4 linked regions of the Homo sapiens genome follow. The protein of the gene in region 4 purifies or fractionates together with the protein of the main gene of each other region. This does not show direct contact. Each region holds a gene or a part of one and is shown on either strand. Other genes may lie near its edges. The genes, in order: TUBB8, MTG1, ATP13A3 and ISLR.

Region 1 (8,823 bases), on a different chromosome or scaffold from region 4:
AGAAACAGACTAATACACTACAATATATTGAGTTCAAAACATTCTATAGAAAAAAATATAATAAAAGAGTGGACAAAAATTTAATTGGACATTTATGAAAATAAGACATACAAGTGGCAAATAGGCAAATAAAAAGGTGCTCCACATTACTGATCATCATAGAAATGCAAATCAAACCCAAAATGAGATATCATTTCACCTCAGTTAAGGTGGCTTTTATCCAGAAGTCAGTCAAAAACAAATGTTGCTAATAGCCAAGATTTGGAAGAAACCTAAATGTCCATCAACAGATGACTGGATAGAGAAAATGTGGTACATATACACAATGGAGTACTATTCAGCTATAAGAAAGAATGAGAGTCTGTCATTTGCAGTAACAGAAATGGAACTGAAAGTTTTTATGTTAAGTGAAATAAGTCAGGCACAGAAAGACAAATGTCACATGTTCTCACTCGTTTGTGGGCGCTAAAATTCAAAACAATTGATGTCATAGAGATAGAGAGTATAAGGTTGGTTACCAGAGGCTGGGAAGGGCAGTGGGGGAACGGGGTTAGTGGGGATGTGAAATGGGTACAAAAAATTGTTAGAAAGAATGAATAAGACAGTATTTGGTAGCAGAACAGGGTGATTATGGTAAAAAAATAATTTATACATTTTATAAAAACTAAAATAGTATAATTGGATTGTTTATAAAACAAGCTATAAATGCTTGAGGGGATGGATACCCTGTTTTTTATTGTGTATTACTGATTGCATGCCTGTATCAAAGTATGTCATGTACCCCCATAAATATATACACCAACTATGTACCCACAAAAATTAATTAAAAATTACAATTAAAACCAAAAGGAGGAGAGTCTAATGAGGCAGGTGTGACCCATGGCTTGAAGTAGCTTTTCAGGTTAACTTTGGAATGTCCTTATCCAAGAAGAGGTGTCCATTTAGTCAATAGGGGCTTAGAAATTAATTTTTAGTTTATAAGTGGAAAAAAGAAGAATTTTTAATCCTGAGCCATAGCTCTCAGTCAGTCAGTCCCTGCAGGGAACCCTGTTCTTTACTCTGGAGATAAACACTGTTTTTCTTTTCCACTGAATAACACCACATTTCAAAATGAGGGGAAACATCTTGAAACTAAGAGGTATGGCCTTACTAAATTTGTTTTGGTTTCCATTGTAATTAATTTAATCACATGTGTTCTAGAGTTTGTCCTCAGTCTTCTACTTTAGGCTCATGATCTGTTGAATTTGCTCAGCTCCCTGCTCAACAGCAGGAAATCAGAATTATTTAAAAGCCTCATTGTGGCTGGGAGCAGTGGCTCATGCCTGTAATCCCAGCAATTTGGGAGGCCAAGGTGGGCAGATCACTTGTTGTCAGGGGTTTGAGACCAGCCCGGCCAACAGAGTGAAACCCCATTTCTACTAAAGATACAAAAATTAGCTGGGTGTGGTGATTCATGCCTGTAATCCCAGCTACTTGGGAGGCTGAGGCAGGAGAATCACTTGAACCTGGGAGGCAGACGTTTCAGTAAGGCAAGATGGTGCACTGCACTCCAGCCTGGGCAACAGACCAAGACTCTGTCTCAAAATAATAATAATAAATAAAAATAAAAATCTCATGTTTCAAACAAAATTTCTTTTGCATATCAACTGTGTCAACTTGCATATTAACTATAATCATTTTGTTTACTTTATGTCCAATCCTGAGAAATCTTTGAGTACTAATTTCACTCTTTTCTGCCATTTTGGTAAACATACCAAATGCCATCAAACAAAATGCACAAAATTCCTGAGAAATACATTTTCTCCTTGAGGAGTATACTTGTTGTGTTAGAGGAACTCGTGGTTACCAAGCTTCTAGTTTAATACACATGACTAGAATTCTCTATCTTAATATGAGTAGCTAGGTACTCACAAGGCATCTAGAAGGTTAATACCTATGGTCTGAAAATAGCCACATTTTTTTACTGGCCACAGATTACAATTGCAGAATATTTATGGCCATACAAGACATCTTCCACCAAGCCTGAAAAATGTATAAATGTCCTAGGAGTGCAGCATTTTTTGTTAAAGATAATATTAACGAGCTAGCTTAGGTCAACGGGTTAATGGTCATTGTTAAAACGAATAGCCCCGACTTTAATGAGTACATCTGCACCTTCCAAGTTTAATTATAACTCTTTCTCTTTATAGTTAGAGACACTAACAAAAGACAATGCATTCCTGCTCTTGTTTTCTGAGGATGTCCAACTCTGTAATGGAGTCATTTCTAATAAACTTGCTTCTTTCACTGTGCTCTCTGACTCACCTCAAATTTTTTACTGCACAAGATCTAAGAATCCTACTTTGTGGTCTGTGTCAGGACCCTCTTTTCTAGCAACATCTTTCAGCAACACCATGAAGGGACACCAAGACAAGACCCCCACTCCAAGGAAAACAATCCACATAGAATCATTTAGCTGGCAAGTGGGCTGTGTTTTAGGGTCATGAAGCCATTCAGGTTGGCAAGAATGATTACCCACTATTACTTAAGTGAGAGGCCCTAGGGTATAATATTAGGGTGAGAGACTCAGCCCAAAGTAGAGACCTGGGGGTGTCATACTCAGATTAGAGGCCAAGCCCACAGGGTTAGAGGCCCTGGGGAACATTGAGAAGAATGGATTTGGCTAAACAAGATGTTTGCCACTTTCTCTTTTTGGACTGTCCACCTTGTGCTCTTTGTCCCTCACCTGAGTGCTCTGCATATTGTTGCCTTTCTGCTCACCGCCTCCGTTTTGCAGTAGCCTGGAGGCAGCCCCAGGAAAGAGGCCCCAAACAGTTTAGCTTTTACTTTCCTTAGCGATCCTCTGACTTTTAGCCTTGATGTCTTAGAGCTATTGCTGCTACCACTTTTCTAGTTGGCAAAGATAATAAACTAACATTAGAACAGCACCTACAGGTTTTTGACCCCACACCAAGGGAAGGTGGTCCTAGAAGGTAAAGGGCAGCAGTGGATAATAGGAGAATATTTATGAAAGTGTCAGGACTTATTGCTAGACCGACCCTCCAGACACAACCCTTAAAGCCTGCCAAGCCATAAACCCAGCTACTTAGCTGTCAGAGTCCACAGGTGCTTCTAGTCTTTCTGGCATACAGGCTGTATTAGTCTGTTCTTATGCTGCTAATAAAGACATATCTGAGGCTGGGTAATTTATAAAGAAAAGAGGTTTAATTGACTCACAGTTGCACATGGTCGGAGAGGCCTCACACTCATGGCAGAAGGCAGGTGAGGAACAAAGTTACATCTTCTACATGGCAGCAGGCAAAAGAGCTTGTGTAGGGAAACTCCCCTTTGTAAAATCATCAGCTGTAATCCCAGCACTTTGGGAGTCCAAGGCAGTGGATGACCTGAGGTGAGGAGATTGAGGCCAGCCTGGCCGACATGGTGAAACCTCGTCTATACTAAAAGTAGAAAAATTAGACAGGCATGGTGGTGGGCGCCTGTAATCCCAGCCACTCGGGAGGCTGAGACAGGAATCGCTTGAACCCAGCAGTCAGAGGTTGCACTCCAGCCTGAGCAACAGAGCAAGACTCTGTCTCAAAAATAAATAAATAAATAAACCATCAGATCTCATGAGGCTTATTCACTGTCATGAGAACAGCATGGGAAAGACCCATCCCCTGATTCAATTACCTCCCACTGGGTCCCTCCCACAATATATGGGAATTAGGGGAGCTACAATTCAAGATAAGATTTGACTGGGGACACAGCCAAAGCATGTCACAGGTTATGAAACAAATTGATTCTAGCAGGCCAGACATAAGAGAGATGATTCCCTGGACCATCCCAAGGAAGAGTGGTTAACAGATGCAAGTTGTTTTATGCATCAGGAAAACAGGAGGGCTAAATATGCTATTATTAGCACAAGAGAATCAATCAAGGCACAAGCCTTGCTGGCTTCGACCTCAGCAGCTCAAAAAGCTGAGTTAATTGAACTAACTAGGCCCCTGCAGTTGGGAAAGAATTTAAAAGTTAACATTTACACTGATTCCAAGTATGATTTTTTAGTGCTTCATGCTTATGCTGCAATTTGGAATGGGTGGGGACTCCTGACCCCCAAGGGCTTTTCCATACAACATCGTTCAGATTTTGAGCTTGTTAGAGTGCTGCTTTGCTGCCAAAAAGTGAGTATAATTAATTGCAGAGGACATCAAAAGAGAGACTGACCATGTAAAAGGAAATGCCCTTGTAGATGCCACAGCCAAGGCCCCTGCACTGAAAGGGCCAATGAAGCTTGTGGGCGTGCTGGTCAGCATACATAGAACTGGGCCAGAATACCCTGAAGAAGAACGAAAATGGGCCAGGGATTGCATTTCAGTCCAGGGCCCCTCGGGCTGAATGATGGTAATAAATTACTAATGCCAAGTACCAATCACAGGAGTATAACTCAGCACTTTCATGATTCTTTTCACCCTAGAAGGGATTCTTTGTTTCTGTTAATGTCTCATTTGTTTATAGGGGTAAATCTTTTCAAGACACTAAAACAGGTGACTCAGCCCTGTGAGCTTTGTGCCTGACATGACTCAAATGGCCAGCAATTTTCTCCTTCTCCAGTTAAACCTGTCCAAAATTGAGGAACCTATCCAGGTGAGAACTGGCCACTCTAATTTACCCGGAAGCCTTTCTGCAGGAGATTCAAATATTTGCTAATGCTTACTGACACCTTCACTGGTTAGATCGAGGCATTCCCCACCCCATCTGAAAAATGTTTACCAGAAGAAATAACTCCTCAGTTTGGGTAATCCAAAAGCCTGCAAAGTGACAATGGCCCATCTTTCACAGCAGGCGTATCCCAAAACCTGTCCTCAGCTTTAAGAATCCAATATGACCTTCACTCTGCTGGAGACCACAGTCCTCTGGAAAGGTGAAAGGGCTAACCCTACTCTAAAGAAGACTCCAGCTAAATCAGAGGCCTGACTGTCTCTAACACCCATAGCTTATTGTGGGTTAGAACTGCTCCAAAGTAAAACGTATAATTGAGTCCTGTTGAGTTCACATGTGGAAGGCCTTTCCTAACCACAGATCTCCTAATAGATGAAAAGACTCATCAATTACAAAAATATGTCATCAATCTAGGACAGGTGCAAAGGCACTCCGTGCATATGGAAACAAGAGTCTTCCCCTCCCACATGGGAGGAAAATTCAGTTTCAGCTCAGCTAGGGATTTAGTCTTACTAAAGACGCGGGAGGAAGTTCTCCAGCGAGCAGCTTTCCCCAACGTGGAAAGGACCACGCAAGGACACCTGAGCTTTCCAACAGATGTTCAGCGCCAGGGGATCCACAGGTGGGTGCACCTGTGTGGAAGTAAAGCTGTTGCTTATTCTGGGAGCCGAATCCGAGGCGGAGGGAGGTGGGCGCGGGGCTATTTAAACGTTGGCGGAGGGCGGGCTGGGTCGCTGCGCGTCTGCTCCTCCTTCTCACGTTTCTCCTGCCGTCCTAATCCCGCCTTGGCCATGAGGGAGATCGTGCTCACGCAGATCGGGCAGTGCGGGAATCAGATCGGCGCCAAGGTTGGCAGCCGGGGCTCTGAGGGCCTAGCCCGGGCCTGCCGGGTGGCCGGGGAAGGTGTTGGCAGTGGCGGGGGCGGTGCCCATGCATTGCGGCCCCTGGGCTCCCTGCCGGGGACGGTGGAACCGGGTGGCTGGCGAGGCGGCCGGGGTGGACCCCAGGGACAGGGCGGCCTAGGGATGGGGGTGCGGATGAGGGTGGGGGTGGGAGAGCGGCTGGGGCGCCTCCCTGACTCAGCCCCGGCCTGTCTGTCTCCTCCCGTCTCTTGCAGTTCTGGGAGGTGATCTCTGATGAACATGCCATCGACTCCGCTGGCACCTACCACGGGGACAGCCACCTGCAGCTGGAGCGCATCAACGTGTACTACAACGAGGCCAGCGGTGAGACCCCCGTCCTTCCCCCACCGCCCTCCTGGGAACGCGGCCCTCCCCTCGCTCATGCCCTCCCGCCCCACGCAGGTGGCAGGTACGTGCCCCGCGCTGTGCTCGTGGATCTGGAGCCGGGCACCATGGACTCTGTGCGCTCGGGGCCCTTCGGGCAGGTCTTCAGGCCAGACAACTTCATCTTCGGTGAGCTGCGGGCGAGGACTGGGGTGCGGCTCCTTAGCCAGGGCAGCTCAAAATCCAGGAGTGTGCTAAGGTCATCCTCTGGGAACTGTGGAGCTAGGGCCCCTGAACACCCTCCTATCCTCCGAGTCGAGTCGCTCAATCTGCCTCTCCTAAATGGGCTTCGGGAGGAAGGCCCTGGTGTCTCCTCAAGGTGAGGAGTTACTGATGTAAACTCCCTGCAAGAACCTGAGCTGGGGCCGTGGCTACTGCCTTTCCTGAGAATGGGCAGGAGCCACCTGCAGCGAGGTCTGTGAACCCGTCTCAGGTTTGACTCCTGTCTTAATTCCTAACAGGGGAAGCTGCTGTCCTGTAACTCTGGGGGAGGGGGTTTCATCTGCTCCACCTGCAGGGCGAACGGTGCTCTCACCTCACGTGTGACGCTTGGCTCTTTCTGCATTATGGTGGTGACCACTGATGACCGTATACCTGGCCGTCGAGTGACCGGCTGTGCTGTCTTACAGGTCAGTGTGGGGCCGGAAACAACTGGGCCAAGGGACACTACACCGAAGGCGCGGAGCTGATGGAGTCAGTGATGGACGTTGTCAGAAAGGAGGCTGAGAGCTGTGACTGCCTGCAGGGTTTCCAGCTGACCCACTCCCTGGGTGGGGGGACTGGGTCTGGGATGGGTACCCTTCTGCTCAGTAAGATCCGGGAGGAGTACCCAGACAGGATCATAAACACATTCAGCATCCTGCCCTCGCCCAAGGTGTCGGACACCGTGGTGGAGCCCTACAACGCCACCCTCTCAGTCCACCAGCTCATAGAAAACGCAGATGAGACCTTTTGCATAGATAACGAAGCTCTGTATGACATATGTTCCAAGACCCTAAAACTGCCCACACCCACCTATGGTGACCTGAACCACCTGGTGTCTGCTACCATGAGTGGGGTCACCACGTGCCTGCGCTTCCCGGGCCAGCTGAATGCTGACCTGCGGAAGCTGGCCGTGAACATGGTCCCGTTTCCCCGGCTGCATTTCTTCATGCCCGGCTTTGCCCCACTGACCAGCCGGGGCAGCCAGCAGTACCGGGCCTTGACTGTGGCTGAGCTTACCCAGCAGATGTTTGATGCTAAGAACATGATGGCTGCCTGTGACCCCCGTCACGGCCGCTACCTAACGGCGGCTGCCATTTTCAGGGGTCGCATGCCCATGAGGGAGGTGGATGAACAAATGTTCAACATTCAAGATAAGAACAGCAGTTACTTTGCTGACTGGCTCCCCAACAACGTAAAAACAGCCGTCTGTGACATCCCACCCCGGGGGCTAAAAATGTCAGCCACCTTCATTGGGAATAATACGGCCATCCAGGAACTCTTCAAGCGTGTCTCAGAGCAGTTTACAGCAATGTTCAGGCGCAAGGCCTTCCTCCACTGGTACACGGGCGAGGGCATGGATGAGATGGAATTCACCGAGGCCGAGAGCAACATGAACGACCTGGTGTCTGAATATCAGCAATATCAGGATGCCACGGCCGAGGAGGAGGAGGATGAGGAGTATGCCGAGGAGGAGGTGGCCTAGAACTCTCCTTTTCTAGGTAAAGGGGGGAAGCAGTGTGGATTCTTTACTGTGTTCTGACAGCCATGTGTCACTATACGCTTGTTAATTTGTGTCTTCACATCTCCTGCTGCGTTTTAAAGCATTTTTATAGTATGCGGTTTTGACTAATAAAGTATTCTCACAGCATCTGGTTTTGCCTCCATCTTCTTTCTATGGGCCCTCTGGCTACTGCTGCCAGATGCGCATAGTTGTCCTGCAAGGCGGAAGCTGTCTGGGTTCATCACATGCCCAGGAACAAGCATTCCAGTGGCTCCAGGAGGGGTCGGTATGGGCTGTGGACATGGCAGGCAGGCTTCACATGAACTTGGGGATGCCCTGGGCCTTGGGCAGTGACGTGGTGGAAAACCTGTTGCTGAAGGCAAGCCTTGGCTTATCCCATATACCAAACTTCTAGGGGACCAGCTGGCCATGTTTCTGGAACGTTAAAAGGGGTCAGTGACCCTGGTGGACAATGTCCCCAGAGTCCCATCTCAGGGTAGGAATGTGGTCAGAGCTGGCTCTGAACCAGCAATGAAGGGTGGGCAAGTGGGACCCCAGGCACTCCATCATCACGATGGCCTGGGTGTGTTTGTGTGGCCTCATTCTCTTAATGAGGTGGGCATGGGATGTCTGGCAGGGACTAGGCAGGAATCAAGCCCAGTGTCTGCTAACATGCACTGAATCCCAAGTAGAAGGGGATTAGGTCCTGGGGGCCGTAGATGGTGGTTGCTGGGCCTGTGTGCGCAGGGCAGTCCCTCCAAAGGCACAGATGGGGTTTCTGAACAGGAGCTGGGGAGACAGGCAGGTGCTCACAAATACTGCTTCCCCCAACTGGCAACCAGTGAGAAAAATGCCTGAGTGGAGGTCTGACCTGCCCCAGTCTGGAGGGCTGATGCTCTCTGGAAAGGTGGCTAATGTGTACTGTCTGCTCTCTCCCTGTCCCCCACTCCAAAACTTCAGGGCAAAAATAATCCAAGATTGTCAGGATGAGCCTGGTGAGGGTGGCACCTTTGGGGACAGACCCTTCAGCCTGGCAGAGTCTCCTCCCCTGGCTTCTTGGGGAGCCTGGACTGCAAAGCCTGCTTTGGGGAAGCTGTCAAATGAGAGATGTGTGAGCTGGGTGCTGGGACGCAT
Region 2 (6,107 bases), on a different chromosome or scaffold from region 4:
TCCGGCCTGGGCTCCCCCTTCCTCCCTTGCCCACGGTCTTGGAGCCCCACTGGGTGCAGGAGCTGCTGGCTGTCCCTGTGGACCCGCCATCCACCGTCCTGCCCACGCCGCCTCAGCCTGCCACCTCCCACCTAGAGGAGACCATGGGCCCTGCCCCACCCACTCCAGGATGTTAGGGTCCCCTCAGCCAAAAAGGCAGCTGCCTGTGGCTCCTGTACCAACCGCCCAGCCACGCTCCATCGCCGCCCAAAGGGAGGTGCCAAGGCCAGGAACCCAAGCCACCCCGGCTCCCCTCGCCTGCCCAGGGGCCGTGGTGACTCACGGGCAGGGAGGCGACATCAGGCTGGTTCTGCCACTGAGCCCCTGAGGAATCTGACCCTCCCCAAAAGAAGCAGTGAAATGGACCAAAGGACTTAAGAATTTGGGGGGAAGTGAGGGAAAAACGTTAGGTGCTAACCACCTGCCCAGAAGAGTGGATCTCACAGCCCAGGAACATTCCCAAGCAGGAAAACCGTCCGTCCGAGGAACGTCCATCCTGGCTCTCTGCGGCTGGTGGGAAAACACACCCTGCCCTGAGGGGCTGTCCAGGCCTTCTCCCCCACACCCTCAGGCCGAGATCCGTGAGAGACCCACTTTGCTCCAACAACTTGAAACAAGTCACTTTACCCTCCTTAGGACCCATTTTGGGGGGGAAAAACCAACACATTCCAGAGCTTTCCAAGTCCTTTGAACTTCAGGTTCACATTCAGGGATCACACAGTTCTGCCTGTTCTCAGGGCACAGCAACTGCCAATCCCGCTGAAGAGGCCTCCCTGGGCACAGCACAGGCTGCACGGTGCACGCATTTCCCTGAAGGCAGCCCCTTCTTCGGAAGCAGCTGTTCCAGGCCTCGGAACAGGGCCTGGGTATCCGCGTGGTGGGCTGGCAGCTGACGGCCTGCTCAGTGGAGCCAGGAGCTAACTCAGACCCCAAAGCAAGCAGGGGGCCAGTGGCGGGGCCCAGCGCCCAGCAGGACACCCATGCAAGAGGCTGAGCCCCCCAACATCCAAGGACAGGAGAGACATGGAGTGGCGCTGGACAGTCACGACAAGGACTTGCCTCCAGCACTGGACACACCTGTGTTAAGACCAGCCCTCTGCTTCCCAGTCCCGCCAGCCTGGGGCATCCTCCATGGGCTCAGCACTGAGAGGTCTTGGGTCTGCCACGTTCTCTAGCTCTCCAGTCACCCACTCATCCAGGGTAGGAGGGGTTCTCCCTGCCCCCCGCCGTGGCCTTGGGATCTCACCCTCTCCATGTCCTGGGGACAGCCTCGCCCTCAGCCGGACTGCATCCCTCCTGGGCCTGAGCCTCGGGACTCAGTGGACACCAAAGTCAAGACCAGCACCCACCACGGGCCCTGCCAGCCTCTGCCTTCCCCAGCTGGCCTGGGTTCTGGCCTGGGTGAGGATCTGGAAGCTGTTGGCAGGACTCAACCAAGCACTGCTCTCTAGCTCCAGGGCACTAAGCCACAGGAGGCAGCGCCCTGCAGCCTCCCGTCCACACTGCCAGCAATGCCCCTGGCCCAGTGAGCCCAGACGCTCCTCCACCCCTTCCAGACCAAGCTCAACGCCTCCAAGACCAGCAGGCCAAGGCCAAGCCCTGCCCCAGATCCTCATAGGCAGAGAAGCCCTTCTGACATTTCCCCCAGGAGGCAGGGGGTGGTCTGAGTCTCCTCACAGCAGAGAGACCCACCGGAGCCCCCTCAACTTTGCAGATGCCCACCTGGAAAATGGGCTGAGCTGCACCAGACCCTCACACACCACAGCACTGCAAGCTGATGGAATGTTCCAGTTATGATGGACACTTCGTGATCTGCAATGACTGTTGATTCAGCACATTAGCATCTGACACAGCCAACCTGAATACTTCCTGCCCCAGGCGGTCAGGGTTATGGCACGATGCAGGTGGCACTCAGGGGCTAACTTCAGGCTGATGAGTGTGTGGGGTATGGGGCAGCAGAGGCAGCCAGCCAGCAAAGAGGGGCCACTGAGCACCAGGGCCCTGGTGGAGGCTGCTGTGGGACGGTCAGGCCACCACCGCAAAGAGGCAGCCGGAGCTTCTGCACAGGATGTCCCTGGCCCCAGGTCCTGCAGCACCTTAGTCCATACTACCAGCCCCACCCACCTTCCTTCCTCTTCCCTCTTCTAGGACACAGGCTGTGGACCCCTTCAGGTGCACTATAATGGGGCTGGAGGGGCCCCCACATCTCTCAGCCCCACTAATGCAGAATCCCACTACCCGTGAGCTAGAAGGTGCTCAGAGGCCAGGGGTCTCTACTGCCCATGCCGGGCGGCCTTCCAGTCATTGCACAGCAAAGCCATGTGCAGGGCGTCCCCCTCAACCCTGCCCTGAACATGCCCCAGGGCACTGAGGGGCGAAGCCAGTGCTTGGGCTCTGCTGCTGGGAGTCTCTGGTCTGTGTCTGTGTGTGCCTGTAAGTGTGAAATAAACCTCTCTGATGGCAGCAAGCCTCTCACTTGTTGTAGGACTGCAAGACACTGGACCGAAAGCCTCCAACACAAACCCTAGCTGCCAACCTGCTCATTTCTTAGGTTTCACTGGTGAGAGCAGCTTTAACACACAGGCCCAAGGCACTACGGTGCACCTCACAGGCCAGTAAGAAACAGGCCCTTTAACTGGAGATTTTAAAGGTTACAGGTTATAGCTTTAACTCCTTCTGAGACAGCATCCATTTCTCAAGAGGCCTGAGCAGGAAGCTCCGGGAGAACCAAGCATGCGGAGCTGCTCAGGGACGTCCACTGGGAAGCCTGGTGTCCACTCCCACCTGCTTGGGCCCTGCAACTGGGGTCCCTGGAGCTGGCCAGGCTGTGGGGCGCCAGAGAGCACAGCACCCTAGTGACCAGCATGGAGCTTCTGGACCGGGTGAGCTGTCTTGAGCCTCAACCACCCAGGTCAGGAGGTCTGGGAGGCCACATGCCTCCGGCCCTCCCTACCCGGACAAGTTCAGGGCAAAGTCTCAGCCGGGGGGTGGCCCCGCAGGACGTCGAGGTCCAGCATCACGGAACCCAGCAGCCCACGGCGGAAAGTCTGCAGGAAGTCACGGGCTGCCGCAGGATAGTTAGGCTGAATAATGTTCACGTTACCTGGGGGACGGGAGGGTTCAGTGAGGAAGGAGCCTTCACAGCAGGACAGGCCCAGCCCTTACCCACCTGAGGGACCAGCCCTAAGAGGCTCCATGATGGCATCAGGGAAGCCCAGGGAACGGGATCACACTCAGAAAGAAAACAGCTTGAGCTACGCTGCCCGGAGCCTCCAAGGCCAGGCATGTGAGGCCTGCAGGTGTCCACCTAGCACTGCCCAATACGCGGCAGGGCTGGTCTCACCCTCGGAAGCCTGGACTACAAGCCCTTCCTCTCCAGAACTTTCTGTAGCTCCCCTGCCCTGAAACCCATTCCCAGAAGACCCGGCGCATGCTCCTTGACACGTTCCTCTCCTCCCTGCCTCCTCCAGGGATGGCCGGGGTCCCCCAGGGTGATGGGGTGAGGCTCCGGTGCCCGCATCAGCGACCTCACTCACCCGTGCCCGTGAGCACCTTCACCTTCTGCGTCTTCCCCAGCTTCACAGCCACACTCTTCAGCACGCGCTCTACGTTGTCACAGGCACTGCCCAGGCCGTAGTGCTGCACGTACCTGCACATAGGCTGCAGGTCAGCACCAGGGGGCCCAGCACTGACACCGCGCGGCCAGCCAGGCCGGGCCCTTCCTCCTGAATGCCACAAAGGCCACGGCCAGGCACCTCCTGTGGGTGACAGTGACTGCGGCGCTGTGGATGACCAAGATGAGACTGCAGGTGACCGGTGCTGGGCCCCGGGGGAGAGCCACTATCTAAGAATCATCCCTGAGCTTCGTCCTGTGTGGCCACGGCCAGCAGCATGGGGGGCGGCTCCCACCACCGGAGCCCTTGCCGCAGCGGGAGGAGTAACAGCTGTTCACACACACAGGCTTCATCCACTCTATCCGGGGTAGGACAGGCAGGCCTCTGTGCAGGCCCAGGTCCTGGAAACTAAAAGAGGAGCACAGCAGACCATCTGCAAACATACTCTGTTTGCTGCTAAGGATGGCACTCGGTAACTTCCAGGCAGCCAGTACACCTGCATCCTCTCCACCCGGCTGGGTGTTTGAGCGGTGTTTTCCTAGCACAGGGACCAGCATGGGCTGACTAGGCACCCACCGCTGCTAAGCGTCACCCAGTGATTGTAACGGGCACTCTGACTCCTCACAGTGCAGGCTCTGGGCAGAGAGGCCTGGAGGGAAAGGCCAGCACAGAGCAGCCACTCACAGGGACAAACACCACCCTAAGCCTTGGGAGCCCGACTAACCCAGACCCAACACTCTCCCAACCTTCCTGACAGCCAGGGGTGAGGGGAACCTGTCTCGTGGCTCCCACGAGGGCAGGCTCAACCTTGAGGAGGCTGGTGCCCTCGGACCTGGTCACAGCATGAGCCGGTAACAGAGGACTCACCCCAAGGCCCAGCAAAGCAAGACATGAGCTCAGAGCCCATAGGAGCATCAGAACCCTGAGTAACACAGGTTCTAAATCTAACTTCTCGGAGGCACCAAGCATGAGCTCTGAATCAGCAGCCTCAAGGGTGCCCTGGTGCTCCAAAAAAGCTGTCCCAGGAGAGAGGAGCAAGCCTGGAGGAGGCGCCCCGGACCACCCCCGAGACCTGCCAATGGGAAGAACTCCTGAAAGGACCGGACTGTTTCCAATAATCTAACTGTCCCACAACAAAGCTCAAGAATTTTTACAGGAATGTAGATATCCATCACCTAACAAGGTGAAACTCAAAATACATGGCATCCAGCCAGGCATGGTGGCTCACGCCTGTAATCCCAGAACTTTGGGAGGCCAAGGTGGACGGATCACTTGAGGTCAGGAGTTCGACACCAGCCTGTTCACCAATATGGTGAAACCCTGTCTCTACTAAAAATACAAAAATTAGCCAGGTGTGGTGGCACATGCTTGTAATCCCAGCTACTTGGGAGGCTAAGGCGGGAGAATCGCTTGAACCCAGGAGGTGGAGGCTGCAGTGGGCTGAGATTGTGCCACTGCACTGTAGCCTGGCTGGGCGACAGAGTGAGATGCCATCTCAAAAAAAAGAAAAAAAGAAAGTCATTGGTAGCTTGATGGGGATGGCATTGAATCTATAAATTACCTTGGGCAGTATGGCCATTTTCACAATATTGATTCTTCCTACCAATGAGCATGGAATGTTCTTCCATTTGTTTGTATTCTCTTTTATTTCATTGAGCAGTGGTTTGTAGTTCTCCTTGAAGAGGTCCTTCACGTCCCTTGTAAGTTGGATTCCTAGGTATTTTATTCTCTTTGAAGCAATTGTGAATGGGAGTTCACTCATGATTTGGCTGTTTGTCTGTTATTGGTGTATAAGAATGCTGGTGATTTTTGTACATTGATTTTGTATCCTGAGACTTTGCTGAAGTTGCTTATCAGCTTAAGGAGATTTTGGGCTGAGACAATGGGGTTTTCTAGATATACAATCATGTCATCTGCAAACAGGGACAATTTGATTTCCTCTTTTCCTAATTGAATACCCTTTATTTCCTTCTCCTGCCTAACTGCCCTGGCCAGAACTTCCAACACTATGTTGAATAGGAGTGGTGAGAGAGGGCATCCCTGTCTTGTGCCAGTTTTCAAAGGGAATGCTTCCAGTTTTTGCCCATTCAGTATGATATTGGCTGTGGGTTTGTCATAGATAGCTCTTATTATTTTGAGATACGTCCCATCAATACCTAATTTATTGAGAGTTTTTAGCATGAAGGTTGTTGAATTTTGTCAAAGGCCTTTTCTGCATCTATTGAGATAATCATGTGGTTTTTGTCTTTGGTTCTGTTTATATGCTGGATTACATTTATTGATTTGCGTATATTGAACCAGCCTTGCATCCCAGGGATGAAGCCCACTTGATCATGGTGGATAAGCTTTTTGATGTGCTGCTGGCCATCAGAGAAATGCAAATCAAAACCACAATGAGATACCATCTCACACCAGTTAGAATGGCAATCATTAAAAAGTCAGGAAACAACAGGT
Region 3 (8,243 bases), on a different chromosome or scaffold from region 4:
TTTTCCCACAGAAAATGTGGCATACAGTATTTGGTTCCCCATTTGATGTGTAAAAAGTGGGAATAAAGAAAGATTTTATATTTTTCTTGAACTGAGGAGATACAGGCTTTAAAATGACTTCCCTTTGGAAATTCACAATCTTGAGGTAGAGCTTGATTTTTTTTTTGTTTTTTTTTTGTTTGTTTGTTTTGAGACAGAGCCTTGTTCTGTCACCCAGGATGGAGAGCAGTGGTGCGATCTTGGCTCACTGCAGCCTCCGCTCCCAGGTTCAAGCAGCTCTTATGCCTCAGCCTCCCGAGTAGCTGGGACTACAGGTGTGTGCCACCATGCATGGCTAATTTTTGCATTCTTAGTAGAGACGGCTTCACCACGTTGGCCAGGCTGGTCGTGAACTCCTGTCCTCAGGTGATCCATCCACCTTGGCCTCCCAAAGTGTTGGAATTACAGGCGTGAGCCACTGTGCCTGTCCAATATCTTATTTTAATCGTGTGAATTTTTTTTTTAATTGTCCTAGTTGATCTGGCTAGAAAATGATTTATATGTAATACATTTTGAAACTGTTAAGAGTCGTGTCTTAAAACACACAAACACATATCTCGTATCTTAAAACACACAAACAAATACATATCTGACACACATGCCTTCTTTGAAGCAAGAAATGTGAATGCTGCAGAGAATTAATTTTAAAAAGAATTTGGCTGTTTGTGGTTGTTTGAGAGAACCACCACATTACTCATTTTCACATCTCTTTTTTGCCCAGCTGTCTTTTCTGTTCTGTGTGTGTGTGTGTGTGTGTGTGTGTGTGTGTGTGTGTGTGTGTGTAGGGGTGGATCGGGGTAGGCCCTCACATCTCTTCTGTACAGTGCTTTCCACTGTTACCATTAGTTCTTAGAGGTGCAGGGACTATAGCAACTACTTAATCTTTTTTGAAATTATTTGAAACTGAACAATGCAACTGTTTCTAAATATAAACAAATATTACCTTTGAGCCACAAATCACTTTCTGGAATTATTGTGGGAGATAATATTTGATACTTCTATGTGAGGAAATTGGTAGACAAAAAATTAAGCCATGTTGTCCACATATACAACTCTCAGTGATTATTGTAAACAGTATGGTAGCATTTAAAATATTTAACAATTTAATATTTTTTGGTGTTCGATACTGATTCCTGTGCTTTCGTTTAATAATTTGTAAACTGTTTTTGTTGTTGTTGTTGTTTTTTAAAGGAGAAAGTGTTCCAGTGACAAAGACTAATTTGCCAAATCCTTCAGTGGATGTGAAAGGAATAGGAGATGAATTATATAATCCAGAAACACATAAACGACATACTTTGTTTTGTGGGACAACTGTTATTCAGACTCGTTTCTACACTGGAGAACTCGTCAAAGCCATAGTTGTTAGAACAGGTAGGAAACATCTTAATTAATCTCTTTTTGCATGTTTCAGCATATTTGATACCTACTAAATGTTTAAAAAGAGATTCTGGGCTGGGTGCTGTGGCTAACGCCTGTAATCCCAGCACTTTGGGAAGCCGAGGTGGGCGGATCATGAGGTCAGGAGATTGAGACCATCCTGGCTAACATGGTGAAACCCCGTCTCTACCAAAATTACAAAAAAATTAGCCGGGCCTGGTGGCGGGCGCCTGCAGTCCCAGCTACTCGGGAGGCTGAGGCAGGAGAATGGCGTGAACCCAGGAGGCGGAGCTTGCAGTGAGTCGAGATCACACCACTGTACTCCAGCCTGGGTGACAGAGCGAGACTCTGTCTCAAAAAAAAAAAAAGAGAGATTCTGTTTTGGGAGATAATTCTCATTTTCTTATAAAAATATCAATAATTGTCTTCTTTTTTTGAAAGGATTTAGTACTTCCAAAGGACAGCTTGTTCGTTCCATATTGTATCCCAAACCAACTGATTTTAAACTCTACAGAGATGCCTACTTGTTTCTACTATGTCTTGTGGCAGTTGCTGGCATTGGGTTTATCTACACTATTATTAATAGCATTTTAAATGAGGTATGTATGTGGGACTCTTAATAGGGTTTGAACCTCAATTATTTATCATATGCAGCTATTGAGGATTTGAAATGTGGCTACTGAGAATGAGGAACTAAAATTTTAAGCTAATTTAATTTTAATTAATTTAATGCTAACAAAGTCATGAGACTAGTAGCTATGATATTAGAAAGCCCAGCTATAGAACATTTCCATTGTAAAGGATACTTCTTTTGGGTGCCTCTGGTTTAGATGGTCTTTTACTTGGTCTTGTGACTTTAAAAAAAAAAAACAGGAAAAAAAACCCCCCCACATAATCACCAAAAGCTTTATTTTCTCTTTTTTACCTCTGAGATGTAATATACAGTGTTAAAATGATTTGTGGTTAGTTAATTGAAGGCGCCGCTTGTCAGAAGTGGAGAGTGGTACAGTAAGGTGTGTGCACGCTGAGTCAATATCTGATAATGATTGTTGACCGGCTTTGAAGTGTGTCATGTGTGAAGTATGTAGCGCCTTGAAAATGAGATAAGTTTCTTTTGAAAGTAGCTGTCATTCTATAATCCATTGAGCTTTTTTATTTTGCAGAAATATCTGAAGAAAAAAATTATATATGGTTAATAGATATGTATATACACACACATACATAAAATTGAAATATACAATTGAAAATGGCTTACAGATTTTCACTAAAGAAATACCCATATTAAATCCGTAAATAATACTGGGGATTTGACATTTATTTTTGTGTTAATTGTAGGTACAAGTTGGGGTCATAATTATCGAGTCTCTTGATATTATCACAATTACTGTGCCCCCTGCACTTCCTGCTGCAATGACTGCTGGTATTGTGTATGCTCAGAGAAGACTGAAAAAAATCGGTATTTTCTGTATCAGTCCTCAAAGAATAAATATTTGTGGACAGCTCAATCTTGTTTGCTTTGACAAGGTGGGTTCAGTTTCATAGTTACTTTCAAAGGTTACTTCGTAGCGTTTAAATATTTAGATCAATGTTTTTTATTTTCTTTGTCAACAAATTTGGACACATTCTGTCATGTTCCTCTAATTTTCCTTTTCCTCCACTTATTTGGTATATGCATCATTTTTCTATACCATAAGTTCTCACTTAACATTACTGATAGGTTCTTGAAAACTGCAACTTTAAATGAAATGAAACCAGTTTTACCATAGGCTAATTGATACAAATGAGATTTAAGTTCCTATGCCATATTTTGGTCACAAAAAATCACCAAACTTCTAAATAAAGATCTAAAACACTTCTGATATTAATCATTGAAATAAATATGAGCTATACATTCATTTAAGAAAGAAATAAAAACAAGTAAGGTAATTATTTACCCAGTTGTTTTATTTCAGGCTCCTGGGTAGTGGGAGCGTATCTCAGCAACTGGCGGAACGAGGCAGGAACCAGCCCTAGACAGGATGCCATCGTATCGCAGGGTGTACTCACACTCGCGCAGACTGGGACCATTTAAATGTGCTGGTTCACTTAACTTGCGTAGCTTTGATGTGGGAGGAAACTGAAGTACCTGGAGTGAAACCCATGCAGACAGGGAGAGAACATGCAAACTCCATGTAGATAGTGGTCGCGGCTGGGCCTCAGCTCTCCCCACCACTGGCACCCATCGTGTTATAAAAAAAGACGGACAAAACAATCGTATTTGAGGACATGCTATATTTCTTATTTTCTCAATTTTTAATACTTTGGATATTGCTTATTTGCTCAAAGCTTCAGTTAACTCCAGAATTAGGCCTAGTAGTATTAATAGTAGTAGCAGTAAAGATTACGTGACCTTTAATTTTTTAGACAGTAATTCTTATTTAACACAATAGGCTCCATACATATATATTTATTATGATTTTATTGCTTGTAAGTGTGTATGTTTAGTGTTTGCTGTATGATTTTATTGAATATGTTTAAGAATTATGAAGGTCACTGATTTTATGTGAAAATGACAAATTATGTACCTGTGTGAAGTATATCTTGCCTCTTAGAAAGGTTTCTCCTTTCCTGAGCTGGAATTTTCTTTAAAGTTTTCTGAGAATTAAACTTTGACCAGAAAACCTTCTATCAAACTTTTCTGGGTAACTGATGTGATACAAATTTGATTTTTGTGCATTTCATTATTACAGAAAAAAATGGGAAACATGTTCTGTTAGAAAAAAATATGTCACATACTGCTACAATTATTTCATATTTATCAGTTCAAAAAATTTCACTTATGCTTGTCTTTTTTGGAAACTTTCCTAAAAGTTTTAAGACAAAAGTGGAGAAAAGATGTGTGTATAATAAACACTCATTTACTCATTACCCAGCTTTATCAGTTATCAACACATTGTCAGTCTTATTTTATCTATCTGCTCATTTTGAAGGGGACAGCATCAGACATTATTTCACTCATAACTACCTTAGTATGTGTCTAGAGGATATTTAAAATATCACTATCACATTTAACAGAATTAGCAATTCTTTAGTTTTTCTAATATCCAGTTGAGATTTCCTCATATCTCTAATTTTTACTAGTTGATTTTTCAGTCAGAATCCAAATAGGGATTACATTGCTTACAATTAACATGTAACAATTGCCTTTACTTACCCCTTATCTCCAGTTATTTTGTTGAAGAAACCAGGTCATTTACCTTGTGGATTTGGCCAGTTGCTTCCTCCTGATGTACTTTAACCTGTTCCTCTTGGCCCTCCTTATACAGTAATCCTTCCTTTTTTGCTTTATAGGCATCCTTTATTGATTGATAAGATAGGTTAACTGGTGCATCCTTCCATTGATTTTTTTTTTGATAGTATAAGCACGTAAATATATACCCCTCTCTGCCCTTACGCAGAAGATTTGTGATCATTGTTTGCACCCCCTCTCCCACTTTAACCATATGTCCTGGAAGCCATTCTCTGTCAGGGATCTTGCCTGTTTCTTTTTTTAACTCTGTAGAACTCCATTATGTTATATGTAGCATAGTTTCTAATGCTGTGTGGTTGCTTTTTATTTTTATTTTTGGGTTTTTTTTTGAGGCATCATCCATACTTTGTGCATGTGTGCTTTTTTGTTTTTTAGACTGGAACTCTAACTGAAGATGGTTTAGATCTTTGGGGGATTCAACGAGTGGAAAATGCACGGTAAATATTAGTTAGACTTGATAGTTTATTAGTTTATTTTTAATATTTTAACATGTGCAACATTCAAACATAAAGGAAGTAATAGACAACTGTGTACCTATACCAGGATTAAACCGTGGACATGTTGCCATATTTGCTTCAGATCGCTTCCTTTAGAATATTAAAATATTATAGAAGTTGCCAAAGTCCCACTGTATCCCTTCCCCAATTCCTACTGCCATTCTGAAATTATTTTTGCATATTTTATATTTTTTCTAAGTATAAATCTATAAATAAGTATCCATGAATGATATACTGTACATATGTTTTGCTGCTTTTTTCCCCTCTCCAAACTTTGTTTTCAAGATTTATCCATGTTGATATGTGCAGATCTAGTTTATTAATTTTAACTGCTCTGTCTTATTCCATTGAATGATTAAACCTTGTCTGTTCTTCTACTAAGGGACAATTCTGTTTTTTCTTCTTTTTTCTCTGCACTGTTGCAAATAGTGCTGGAATTAAAGTTCTTACACATAAGTCCTTGTAGGCATGTGGCTGAGTTTCAGTAAGCTAGATCCCTGTAAATGGAAAGGCTGGGCCGTAGCATGGGCACGGCTTCAGCTTTATGCTTTCTCTCTCAGTGGGTAAAGATCTTTTTACTCCACATTCTTGCCAAACTTAATATTGTCAGACTTGTAATTTTTGCCAGATGGATGGATATGAGTATTACATTGTGGTTTTTACATTCTTCTCATTTCTTATAAAATTGAGCATCTTTTCACATTTTGGAGGGAGGGTCATTTAGCATTCTTCTGTGTATTGTGTGTTTATATCCTCATTTTTCTGTTGGGAAGTCTATCTTATTTGTTAGAGGTCTTTTTTATTTTCTGGATAGGAATCTTTTTCAATATTGTGTATTGAAAATTATCCTATTAGTCTCTGGCTCATCTCTTTACTTTTGTTTCTGTTGCTTTTTGAAGCTCAGAAGTTTTACTCCTGTAGTTTTGTTTGTGTCTTCCCCCCTCCCCCTGTCAAAAGTCTGCTAAATTTTGGTGTATATAGCTTGAGAGACAGTATTGTTTGGCCAATGTAATTTCAAGAGTTGTTGTGTCTTGGAAAATAGTATGTCACGTTGTGACCTTTCTTATCTCTAGTAATGCATGTTGCCTTAAATTCTGTTTTGTCTTATAATTATATAGCTCTATACCAGCTTTCTTTTGCCTGATGTTTGCCTAGTGTGTGTTTTGCCACTTGTTTACTTTTCAGTCTTTCTGTGCCATGATGTGCACATTTATTCAGATATATTAGAAATTATTTCTACCATTGCTCCCCCAATTTACATACACATTTTCACATTCTCATTTTTTCTCTCATTTTCTCACTTTATGCATCCCAATCTTATACTGCTTGTTCTTACATTATCAATATTTATACTTAAAGTTCATGGATGTTAATACTGCCTTTTAACCACTCCCCTGCCCCCCAAAACAAACCTATGGACTGTAAGATACTTTTGGTTATTCTCCTCCCTTCCTATATGTATTTGTTGCATAATATTTTCTGATTATTATTTTGGTCTTATACAGTCTGCATGCTTAGATTTACCTAGGTGTACTAATGCCTTAACCATTGCATCTTGTGTAAATTGCCATCTTCTGTAACTACATTCATTTGCTTTGTTTCACTGTCACTCTTTTTTTTTTTTTTAAGTGAAAGCAAATTTAAGAAAGTAAAGGAATAAAGAATGGTTCCTTCATAGGCAGAGCAGCCCACTGTCACTTGGGTGGTAGTGTAACTATACAGATTTCTAGGTTTGACATTTGTGTTCTCTCAATACTATGAAGCTGTTATTTCATTTCTCTTAATACCTTTTGTTAATTGGTACTGATAAATCTTAGTCTTTTTAGTAATCTTTTTTTTCTCTGGTTGCTTGAAGAATATTTCTTCACCCTTAATTTCTGCAGATTCACTGTGATCTTTTTATTTGTGTGTACAGGATTCATGATGCTTCTTGATTTCATGCTTTCATGTTTTTCATAAATTCTGGAAAATTTTCAGGCCTTTTTTACTTCCATTATGGCCTTTTCCTTGTGTTTTGTTTTCTCTCCTTCTGGGAATCCTAACCATGTGTTGGACAACACATGGTTTACTTGGTTCTTTCCAAGTCTGCTCCCACCCCTACTCTCGCATCTACAGTGTCTTACTCTTTGTATGTCTAATTTTAAAATGCCCTTTTTGCATTCTTTCAGATTTGCCATTCTGTTATCTTAAATTTACGGGATTCTTTATTTTTTTATTTTAAACATAGGAATTGGTATGGGTGTCTCGCTATATTTCCCAGGCTGGTTTTGAACTCCTGGCCTCAAATGATCCTCCTGCCTCAGCCTCCCAAAATGCCGGGATGACAGGCATCAGCCACTGCCCCTGGCCAAATTTATAGGATTCTAATTCTGTCTTTGTTATGTCTGTTGACACTCTTGGTGAATTGTTTGCTAGCGCATCTTTAAATTATGGACTCATTCTTAACAGAATTTTCTTTGAGCTCCCCTCTGGAGAAGTTCTGACTTTGCTTGGCTAAGAGCCCCAGTGGTAATCAACGGTGTCATACAGGCTTTAACTGACCTCCTGTGTTTCAATCCTTGCTCTGCTACTTATGGACGGTGTAACCTGGGACAAGTCACTTAACCACCCTGCTTCAGTTTTCTCATCTATAATGGGGGTAATAAAACACCTTTTCTATGGTGTGAGGATAATGGGCCAATAAATTTAAAGTTCTTAGAATAATGCCTGGTGCATAGTAAATATTATGCAGATATTAGCTATTTTCTTGGACTTTGGGTGAGGAAAAAGACAAGCTTATTCATAATTAATGCCTTTAGGTCTGTGGGTGAATTTTTTCTCATCTGCCCTTTTCCCAAGGGCGTGTAGCTCTTCAAGAGTACTGGCTTTCCTGAGTCAGAGGGATCCTTTCAGTACCAGCTACCCACTTTGCATGGGGCCAGACTTTGTTTCCTGTCCTTTTGTGGGTATTAAATCCCAAGTTCTTAGTTTACTGAGATGGCCCCCTCCCTTCATCCCCCCAGCAGCCATAGCATCAGCTCAAGTTCACACCCCTCTGGTTT
Region 4 (8,636 bases):
GAAAAGTGGCTGGAGATGGCCCTGAGTGGAAGGGCAGTGACAGTCAGCAGGGAGGGCTTAGGAGGCCCTGGGCAGACGGAGGAGGGAGGAGAGAGGGGGGCAAAGGCTCCAGCTGGAAGGTCAAGGTTATTGTTCATTCATTCCTTTGTTCAGCAACTATTTGTTAAGCACCTACTAAGTGGCAGGCCCTTTGCTGGGCACTAGGGGGATAGCAGTGGACAGAACGAAGTACCCACCTGTGTGGAGCTCACATTCAGATTGCGGAGATAGACAGGAAACACACTAACAGAGATGTCAGGGGAGGGGAGGGAAGAAGGACAAGTAAGGCAAGGTGAGGAGACAGCAAGGGACAAAGACTGTTTATATAGAGTGGCCTGGGAAGGCCTTTCTGGGGAGCTGGCATTTGAACAAACCTCAAAAGACAAGAGGAAGGGAGCCCTGCAGGTGTGGACAGACTTTGTCCAGTTAGAGGAAATAGTAGGAGCAGCAGCCCCAAGGTGGGAGCAGGGCACACGTGGGGCTGCACACAGTGAGCAGGGCCAGAGCAAAGGGGGGTGAGGCCAGGGAAAGTGGCCAGGTTGCCCACCAAGGCTCACCTGGGTTCCTAGGTCAGAGATCCTGAGAAGAGGGGAGAAGCCCTCATGCCCAAGTGGTGGGAAGGGGTGGAGGAGAATGGGGAGGAAATGGGAGTGAGGCCACCCCAGGTAAGGTCAGCTGCAACCTCTGGGCTAGGGTGACGCCAGAAGAGAAGATAGGGCCTGCAGTGCCTCTCCCCCATCCACAGCCCTGGGTGCACATGCCACGAGCTCCTGCTCACTCCACCTCACATCCCCACACTTGTGCATGAACAACACACACACATGGAGAATAGTCACAGGCTCACCTTTCACATGCATGCACACAGAAATTGTGCATGAACACACGCATGCACACGGGCCCCTTGTGTTAGTGTAGACATTTTTGAGAATTCTAAACAGGCAGAATATAGGGGCCAAAGGACTTTAGACCAACTCTCACGTATGACAGAGGCACTAAGGCCTAGAAAAAGGAAGCCTCATAATTTGGTGACCTAGGCAGATCACTCTATGTCCCCCCATGCATGTGCATGTTGTGTGTGTGTGCGCGCGCACACACACACACACACACATGCACGCACGCAGTCCCACCAGCTGTCCAAAGCTCCTTCCATAACCCTATCTTCTCAACAGCCTCTCTCTCCCAGGACACCCACAGGCTTAACCAAGTCCCACCAGGAGTGCCCCGAGTTTCCTCCCAGCTATTCCAGCAGGCTGCTGGGGGGAATACAGTGTCGGGACCAAGATAGACTCTGCCCCTCTTGGTGGGATGGCTACAGCCCACAACCACAGCTGACCACAGCAGCCCCCGACTGCCTCTCTCCTCTCAGAGCCTGTTTCCGGGTTCAGACCTTCTTCCTCCATCTCTCTTTCTGGGTCTTTCTCCCTTGCTTCCTTTCTCTACCTCCAGAAAGGAGGCTGTGATTCTCTGTTTTTCCCTCTCTTTCCTGGTGTCTCTCTCATTTCTCTGTTTCTCTCCAGTTTTCTGTCTCTGCTGGGCTTGTCCCTCTCGCTCCATCTTCTCATCAGGATCTTTTTTTTTGCCTTCCAGGAAAAGCTGACGTGGTGCCCCTGGTCAGTGGGAGTGAGGCCTTCTGGGGTGGGGGAGTCCTGGTTGAGCAGCCACAGCTGGGGTGCGGCTGGCGCCCTGGCTAGGGGCAGCAGGAGCAGGAGCAGAGCGAGAGGCAGCGGAATGGGAGGAGAGAGGGCTGGACCTCTGCAGGCAGGAAGGGGAGCAGGGGGAAAGAAAAACTGTGGGAGGGAGTGAGCCCCCCTCCCCTGCTAGGGTGACCAACTGTACTGGTTTGCTGAGACTGTCTCGATTTTAGCATGGAAAGTCCCATGTCCCAGAAAACCCATCAGTTCCAGGTGAACCAGGACTGTTGGCTGGTCACCCTACAAGCTGCCAGGGACCCACAGGAGACAGGGCCAGGACTCACAGGAGGGGCTCCCAAGCTTGGCCTCCTAGTTCTGGGGACAGTCAGGGCCGCACATACTCACCAAGGGTCCCCATCTCAGGCCTGAGCCCAATTTAGAGGAGGCCAGGAGAGGGGAGATGGCAGCCCAGACAGCCCACAGGAAGCTCCCAGCCTGAAAAGATCAGGGAGCCCGACTTCTGACTTGTCTCCCTGCCTGCTGGCATGATCTCCTGTGAGGTGGGCTTTACAGAAAGAACTTGAGCTCTGACAGCAAGAGAAGAGCAGAGGGGCAACCCAGGAGGTCATACGCCCCATCCTCAGAGGCCTGCACAACTGCTCCTGGGCTCTGCTGAGGAGCAGGCCCACCTGTCCCACTGTGAGACACCTTGGAGAGTCAATAGTCCTTGGCTGAGATCCTGGCGGCCTTATTGTCCTTCCTGGTGGAAGCGGGTATGGCCACACCTTGCAGGCAGTGGCAGGACCTGAGCAGACCAGGAAGATACATCAGTGACCAGCACGCACAGTCTCATTTCTGCCCAGGTGGGCTGGTCCCTCCCACTTTTCCCGCCCTCAGCCCCCCACATCTGTTTTGAGGTGGGAGTCTGAGCTTAGTGTTTGGCTGTCATTAAGGTCTTAGGTAGGGAATGAGGGGACAGACTCCCTGCCCCCAGAAGGCTGCTGACATACTCACCCACCCAACAGAGCATGGGTCTCCTACACTGTATGAAATATTCTCTAAAATGTCTTGGGCATGCCCCTTCCCTAGCCTGGGCCCAAAGGCCCTATCTGTAAGTTGATGAGGAGATGAAGTGGGTGAGCTCTAAAATGCTTCCTTCTGATGACCACCCAACTTGTCCATCATGCCATGAAGGGGGCGCTTACAGAGTGTCTTCCCTGTGCTGGAGATCAATAGCACCTGGGAAGTTAAGGCCTCTGCCCTCAGTGGGCTTCCTCTCTAGTAAGGGGTCGCACATTAAGCACGCATGAATAAATAATCACAGCTTATAGGAGGAGCTATGAAGAAAAGTCAGGAATGTCTGAGAGAACAGTCACTGGGAACTGAGGGCTGAGGAGGTGCTTGTACTCTGACCCTGATGTGCTTGCAAGGAGGGAGGTGGGGTGGGAACTATGAGCTCCTCAGAGCACCCTGGAGGTAAAGCTGGTGGCACAGACTTTGTGCAGGTGAGGGTGTGTGTATGGGCTGTGCAGAACATAGTGAAGCCCCCTCCACCAGGAAGCCCTCCCTGACTGACACTGAGGTCACTGAGTCTCCCCTCTGGTTTACTGAACCCTGGATGTGTTTCTTGCAGCCTCTGGTTGGCCCACCAAATTCAGGACTTTCCTAGAAATTCTCCAGCACAGTCAGGATGATGCAAGAGAGGGCTTCCTCTGCAGGGGAAAGAGAGGGTGCTCTCCATTGGACCATAATAATATCCTCAGCATCAGACTCGGGTGTTTTGCAGGCAGCATGCTGGGGACTTCTGTGGCCTTGCTTGGTGACAGGGAATGGGGTGTGATGAGCTGGGGCAGGCTTCCTGGGGATGCTTTCAGCCAAAGATGAGCCCTGTCTGCCCTTGGCCCTGCTGAGAGGGTAAGTTGAGTCATGAGCAGAATTCAACCAGTTATCAGATGGAAGGCCAAGGAAGCTTGGGGAGGGCTACTGAGGGGATACGGTAGGCTTGTCTGTGGAGAGCAAAATTCTTCAGTCTACAAAGTTCTTTTCTGGGCTCCTTCATCTTTCGGTTTCTCTTCCAGCTCCCTCGTTTTGGGCCTCTTTTGTTTCCCCATTCCCCTCCCCTGGGCCTTCCCGTTTGGAAAAGGGGTCACATATCCTCACCCTGGAGGCGTCTGCCCCTTCCACACAGTTGGTGTTGGAACAGTGGAGCTCAGAGAGGCCGATGCTGACCGCGTAGATGTCCAGCACCAACAGTGGGATTTTGGGCCCTGTGGGGGACACAGAGAGAACTCTCCGGGAGTGCGGCCCCTTGGCCTCCCCTCTGGGTGCCCAGTGGGCAGTGGGCCTGGGTGGCTCAGAATCCCAGCCAGGAGCACTGAAGGTCAACAGGCTCCCGCCCTGAGTTTTCTGAGCCAGGCCTCCCTGTTTCCTCCCCAGCCAGTGGGGAGCGCAGTGAGGGGCGGGGCCTGGAGTCTTGGGAGCTCCCTGGACAACAACATGCATTTAGCGCAGCTCAGTCTCAGAGCCAGCAGGATATGTTTTCTTAAAAAAAAAAAAAATGCCTAACATCTTGGCTTTCACCGAAGGGTTGGTATCTGCTTTGTACACTTTGGCCTTCTTGGCTTTTCACTGAAACACACACACATGGATGCACACTCACTTCCACACACAAACCCACACCAAGACAGACACACACACACACTCACACACAAACTCATGTACATGGTTTCATACCCACATCCATGCAAACACACATACAAATCCAGAAATACGCACCCTCACACCCACAAACTTGTACACACACACACACGTATACACACCAACACACATACAACCCTGGCTTGGACAAAAGCTTCCCGTTTTTTCTTGTTTGAAGTGGAAATCTCCCACCTTCCATGAGATTCAATTTCTCGCCCTTCCCCCGCTAAAATCCTCCTGGCCCCATCATTTCTTGGGTCCTTTCCAGACAGTGCTGTGTCTTTAAGGAAGTTGAAGCTGCTAAAAGTGAGTGAGAGAGAGAGAAAAAACACAACCCAAAAAAATTTGGCATCTCTTCCCCCCTCAAGTTTCTGGTGTCACTTATGAAACACAGGTCCTTGTTGCTGCAGAGAAGCAGTTGTTTTGCTGGAAGGAGGGAGTGCGCGGGCTGCCCCGGGCTCCTCCCTGCCGCCTCCTCTCAGTGGATGGTTCCAGGCACCCTGTCTGGGGCAGGGAGGGCACAGGCCTGCACATCGAAGGTGGGGTGGGACCAGGCTGCCCCTCGCCCCAGCATCCAAGTCCTCCCTTGGGCGCCCGTGGCCCTGCAGACTCTCAGGGCTAAGGTCCTCTGTTGCTTTTTGGTTCCACCTTAGAAGAGGCTCCGCTTGACTAAGAGTAGCTTGAAGGTAAGCCAGTGGGGAGGAGGGCTCCAGGGCCAGCGGCGGGAGCGGGAGGCCTGTTGGACATAGGGGCTGGTTCCCTCTTGGTCCATCCCTGCTGGTCTGAGGTGCGTGGGACAATCCCTAGCTTGGAGCCGTCCAGGGGGCATCTGCTTCTTCCACAACCCACAACTGAGGCCCCAGAAATCCCAGCTGCGTTTGGGCTGAGCCTCTGGCCTCACCCAAGTCAGCTGAGAGGTCCTGGCGGGGGTTTATTTAGGCAGCTGCCTGGCTAAGTTTGAACAGAACAGGCCACGGGTGTGATTCCACAGAAAAGGCCTGGTGTCTGCTGCGGTCATGGCCGGAGGAGCGGGAGAGGGCGGGTGGAGTGGATGGGGGTGGTGTGCACTGCACAAGGGGCCTCGTCTGGGCCAAGGCAAAGCATACCTATGGGGGGCTCCGGTGGGAGGGACTGCGGCCAGGATGTGGGAGGGCAGGGGGAGGTTCTGCAAAGTGCTGGGGGAGGGGGGTGGCTGGAAAACAGATTTCAAGTCATAAAGTCAGCTAGGAACAGGCCGAGGCAGGGAGAACTCTCCACTCGGAGGAGGAGCTGGGGTCCTCTTCCATCCCGTCTTCATCCTGCCTGGCTGCGTGACCTCGGGCAAGTCTCCGCCCTTCTCTTGGCCTCAGTTTCTCCTTCCGTAGGATGGGGGCGGTGGGCTAGGTGGTGTTGGGATTTAGCTGGGTTATGTGGGACAGGGCCTCCTGATGGGAAAGAGCTCTGGCTGGGCTTGTGGGAGGAATGAGTCCCTTTGGCAGGTTCTCGGGATCCCCTGGGTGACATGCCTTTCTCTGCAGGAGGCACCATGCAGGAGCTGCATCTGCTCTGGTGGGCGCTTCTCCTGGGCCTGGCTCAGGCCTGCCCTGAGCCCTGCGACTGTGGGGAAAAGTATGGCTTCCAGATCGCCGACTGTGCCTACCGCGACCTAGAATCCGTGCCGCCTGGCTTCCCGGCCAATGTGACTACACTGAGCCTGTCAGCCAACCGGCTGCCAGGCTTGCCGGAGGGTGCCTTCAGGGAGGTGCCCCTGCTGCAGTCGCTGTGGCTGGCACACAATGAGATCCGCACGGTGGCCGCCGGAGCCCTGGCCTCTCTGAGCCATCTCAAGAGCCTGGACCTCAGCCACAATCTCATCTCTGACTTTGCCTGGAGCGACCTGCACAACCTCAGTGCCCTCCAATTGCTCAAGATGGACAGCAACGAGCTGACCTTCATCCCCCGCGACGCCTTCCGCAGCCTCCGTGCTCTGCGCTCGCTGCAACTCAACCACAACCGCTTGCACACATTGGCCGAGGGCACCTTCACCCCGCTCACCGCGCTGTCCCACCTGCAGATCAACGAGAACCCCTTCGACTGCACCTGCGGCATCGTGTGGCTCAAGACATGGGCCCTGACCACGGCCGTGTCCATCCCGGAGCAGGACAACATCGCCTGCACCTCACCCCATGTGCTCAAGGGTACGCCGCTGAGCCGCCTGCCGCCACTGCCATGCTCGGCGCCCTCAGTGCAGCTCAGCTACCAACCCAGCCAGGATGGTGCCGAGCTGCGGCCTGGTTTTGTGCTGGCACTGCACTGTGATGTGGACGGGCAGCCGGCCCCTCAGCTTCACTGGCACATCCAGATACCCAGTGGCATTGTGGAGATCACCAGCCCCAACGTGGGCACTGATGGGCGTGCCCTGCCTGGCACCCCTGTGGCCAGCTCCCAGCCGCGCTTCCAGGCCTTTGCCAATGGCAGCCTGCTTATCCCCGACTTTGGCAAGCTGGAGGAAGGCACCTACAGCTGCCTGGCCACCAATGAGCTGGGCAGTGCTGAGAGCTCAGTGGACGTGGCACTGGCCACGCCCGGTGAGGGTGGTGAGGACACACTGGGGCGCAGGTTCCATGGCAAAGCGGTTGAGGGAAAGGGCTGCTATACGGTTGACAACGAGGTGCAGCCATCAGGGCCGGAGGACAATGTGGTCATCATCTACCTCAGCCGTGCTGGGAACCCTGAGGCTGCAGTCGCAGAAGGGGTCCCTGGGCAGCTGCCCCCAGGCCTGCTCCTGCTGGGCCAAAGCCTCCTCCTCTTCTTCTTCCTCACCTCCTTCTAGCCCCACCCAGGGCTTCCCTAACTCCTCCCCTTGCCCCTACCAATGCCCCTTTAAGTGCTGCAGGGGTCTGGGGTTGGCAACTCCTGAGGCCTGCATGGGTGACTTCACATTTTCCTACCTCTCCTTCTAATCTCTTCTAGAGCACCTGCTATCCCCAACTTCTAGACCTGCTCCAAACTAGTGACTAGGATAGAATTTGATCCCCTAACTCACTGTCTGCGGTGCTCATTGCTGCTAACAGCATTGCCTGTGCTCTCCTCTCAGGGGCAGCATGCTAACGGGGCGACGTCCTAATCCAACTGGGAGAAGCCTCAGTGGTGGAATTCCAGGCACTGTGACTGTCAAGCTGGCAAGGGCCAGGATTGGGGGAATGGAGCTGGGGCTTAGCTGGGAGGTGGTCTGAAGCAGACAGGGAATGGGAGAGGAGGATGGGAAGTAGACAGTGGCTGGTATGGCTCTGAGGCTCCCTGGGGCCTGCTCAAGCTCCTCCTGCTCCTTGCTGTTTTCTGATGATTTGGGGGCTTGGGAGTCCCTTTGTCCTCATCTGAGACTGAAATGTGGGGATCCAGGATGGCCTTCCTTCCTCTTACCCTTCCTCCCTCAGCCTGCAACCTCTATCCTGGAACCTGTCCTCCCTTTCTCCCCAACTATGCATCTGTTGTCTGCTCCTCTGCAAAGGCCAGCCAGCTTGGGAGCAGCAGAGAAATAAACAGCATTTCTGATGCCCCTCCGTGTCTGCCTGGAATTTTGTCTGGATCTAGGAGCCTCTGCTGGGAGATAGGATCAGGAGCTGAAGAGTCAGGGCAGCCAGCCTGCCTGCCCACAGTGGCAGGGGCCTCTGAGACTCCAACAGACTGTGGAGGCACAGGAGTGCTGGCCCGATGCTGTGTCAGGGGCTGGGCCTTGCGGTGAGCTGAGCTGCAGATGTTCCCTTCCTCCAAACCATCCCACAGGACAGCTGGGGGCAGGAGCCTGGGGTGGCTGGCGACCCTGAGCAGCGCCTGATGTCAGCAGTGGCTTCAAGAGAGGCATTTTGGAAAGGCGCAAGGAAATGGAAGTGCCTGGGTGGTAGCTCCTCTTCCCTGTCCTGCTCCTGGAAGAGATGTTAGGAATGAAGAGGAAAGAGGGGACAGGTGGGGCAAGATGGAGGAGACAGATGAGGAGAAGGGGACACAGGACAGAGGAGGAGAAAGCCCCAGAGAGACTGGGAATAAGAGAACATATTTACATATTTGAGGGAGAAACCAGGGGGGAAACAAATCGTACTTATCTTTCTCCCAAAGAAGAAATGGTATTCCAAGAGGAAAGTCCAAATGAGGACTGCAGATTCCCTGTAGGAATCTTTCCCCACAGAGCAAGTGGATCAGTAACTGGCCTGGGCCGTGTGTGTGTGTGTGTGTGTGTGTGTGTGTGTGTGTGTACAGCAACCTGAGCGGTGCGTGTGTGTGTGTGTACAG

What was found.
Region 1: the proteins of ISLR (region 4) and TUBB8 purify together in Homo sapiens (affinity purification with mass spectrometry; 3 studies listed by BioGRID and IntAct, with this or other methods). This does not show direct contact.
Region 2: the proteins of ISLR (region 4) and MTG1 purify together in Homo sapiens (affinity purification with mass spectrometry; 3 studies listed by BioGRID and IntAct, with this or other methods). This does not show direct contact.
Region 3: the proteins of ISLR (region 4) and ATP13A3 purify together in Homo sapiens (affinity purification with mass spectrometry; 3 studies listed by BioGRID and IntAct, with this or other methods). This does not show direct contact.

The regions. Positions count from the first base shown.
Region 1 is NC_000010.11:45,905-54,727, reverse strand, and holds TUBB8 (tubulin beta-8 chain), read left to right. Parts: upstream 1-5,431; 5' UTR 5,432-5,489; coding exon 5,490-5,546; intron 5,547-5,815; coding exon 5,816-5,924; intron 5,925-6,002; coding exon 6,003-6,113; intron 6,114-6,269; exon of another isoform or gene 6,270-6,303; intron 6,304-6,445; coding exon of another isoform or gene 6,446-6,613; coding exon 6,614-7,671; 3' UTR 7,672-7,840; downstream 7,841-8,823. UniProt on the Homo sapiens protein: Tubulin is the major constituent of microtubules, a cylinder consisting of laterally associated linear protofilaments composed of alpha- and beta-tubulin heterodimers.
Region 2 is NC_000010.11:133,417,061-133,423,167, reverse strand, and holds the end of MTG1 (mitochondrial ribosome-associated GTPase 1), read right to left. Parts: intron 3,689-6,107; coding exon 3,576-3,688; intron 3,143-3,575; coding exon 3,003-3,142; 3' UTR 648-3,002; downstream 1-647. UniProt on the Homo sapiens protein: Plays a role in the regulation of the mitochondrial ribosome assembly and of translational activity. Displays mitochondrial GTPase activity.
Region 3 is NC_000003.12:194,441,624-194,449,866, reverse strand, and holds part of ATP13A3 (polyamine-transporting ATPase 13A3), read left to right. Parts: intron 1-1,230; coding exon 1,231-1,410; intron 1,411-1,857; coding exon 1,858-2,015; intron 2,016-2,751; coding exon 2,752-2,940; intron 2,941-5,080; coding exon 5,081-5,142; intron 5,143-8,243. UniProt on the Homo sapiens protein: ATP-driven pump involved in endocytosis-dependent polyamine transport. Uses ATP as an energy source to transfer polyamine precursor putrescine from the endosomal compartment to the cytosol.
Region 4 is NC_000015.10:74,168,967-74,177,602, forward strand, and holds ISLR (immunoglobulin superfamily containing leucine-rich repeat protein precursor), read left to right. Parts: upstream 1-4,743; 5' UTR 4,744-5,053; intron 5,054-5,580; exon of another isoform or gene 5,581-5,687; intron 5,688-5,884; 5' UTR 5,885-5,892; coding exon 5,893-7,179; 3' UTR 7,180-7,905; downstream 7,906-8,636.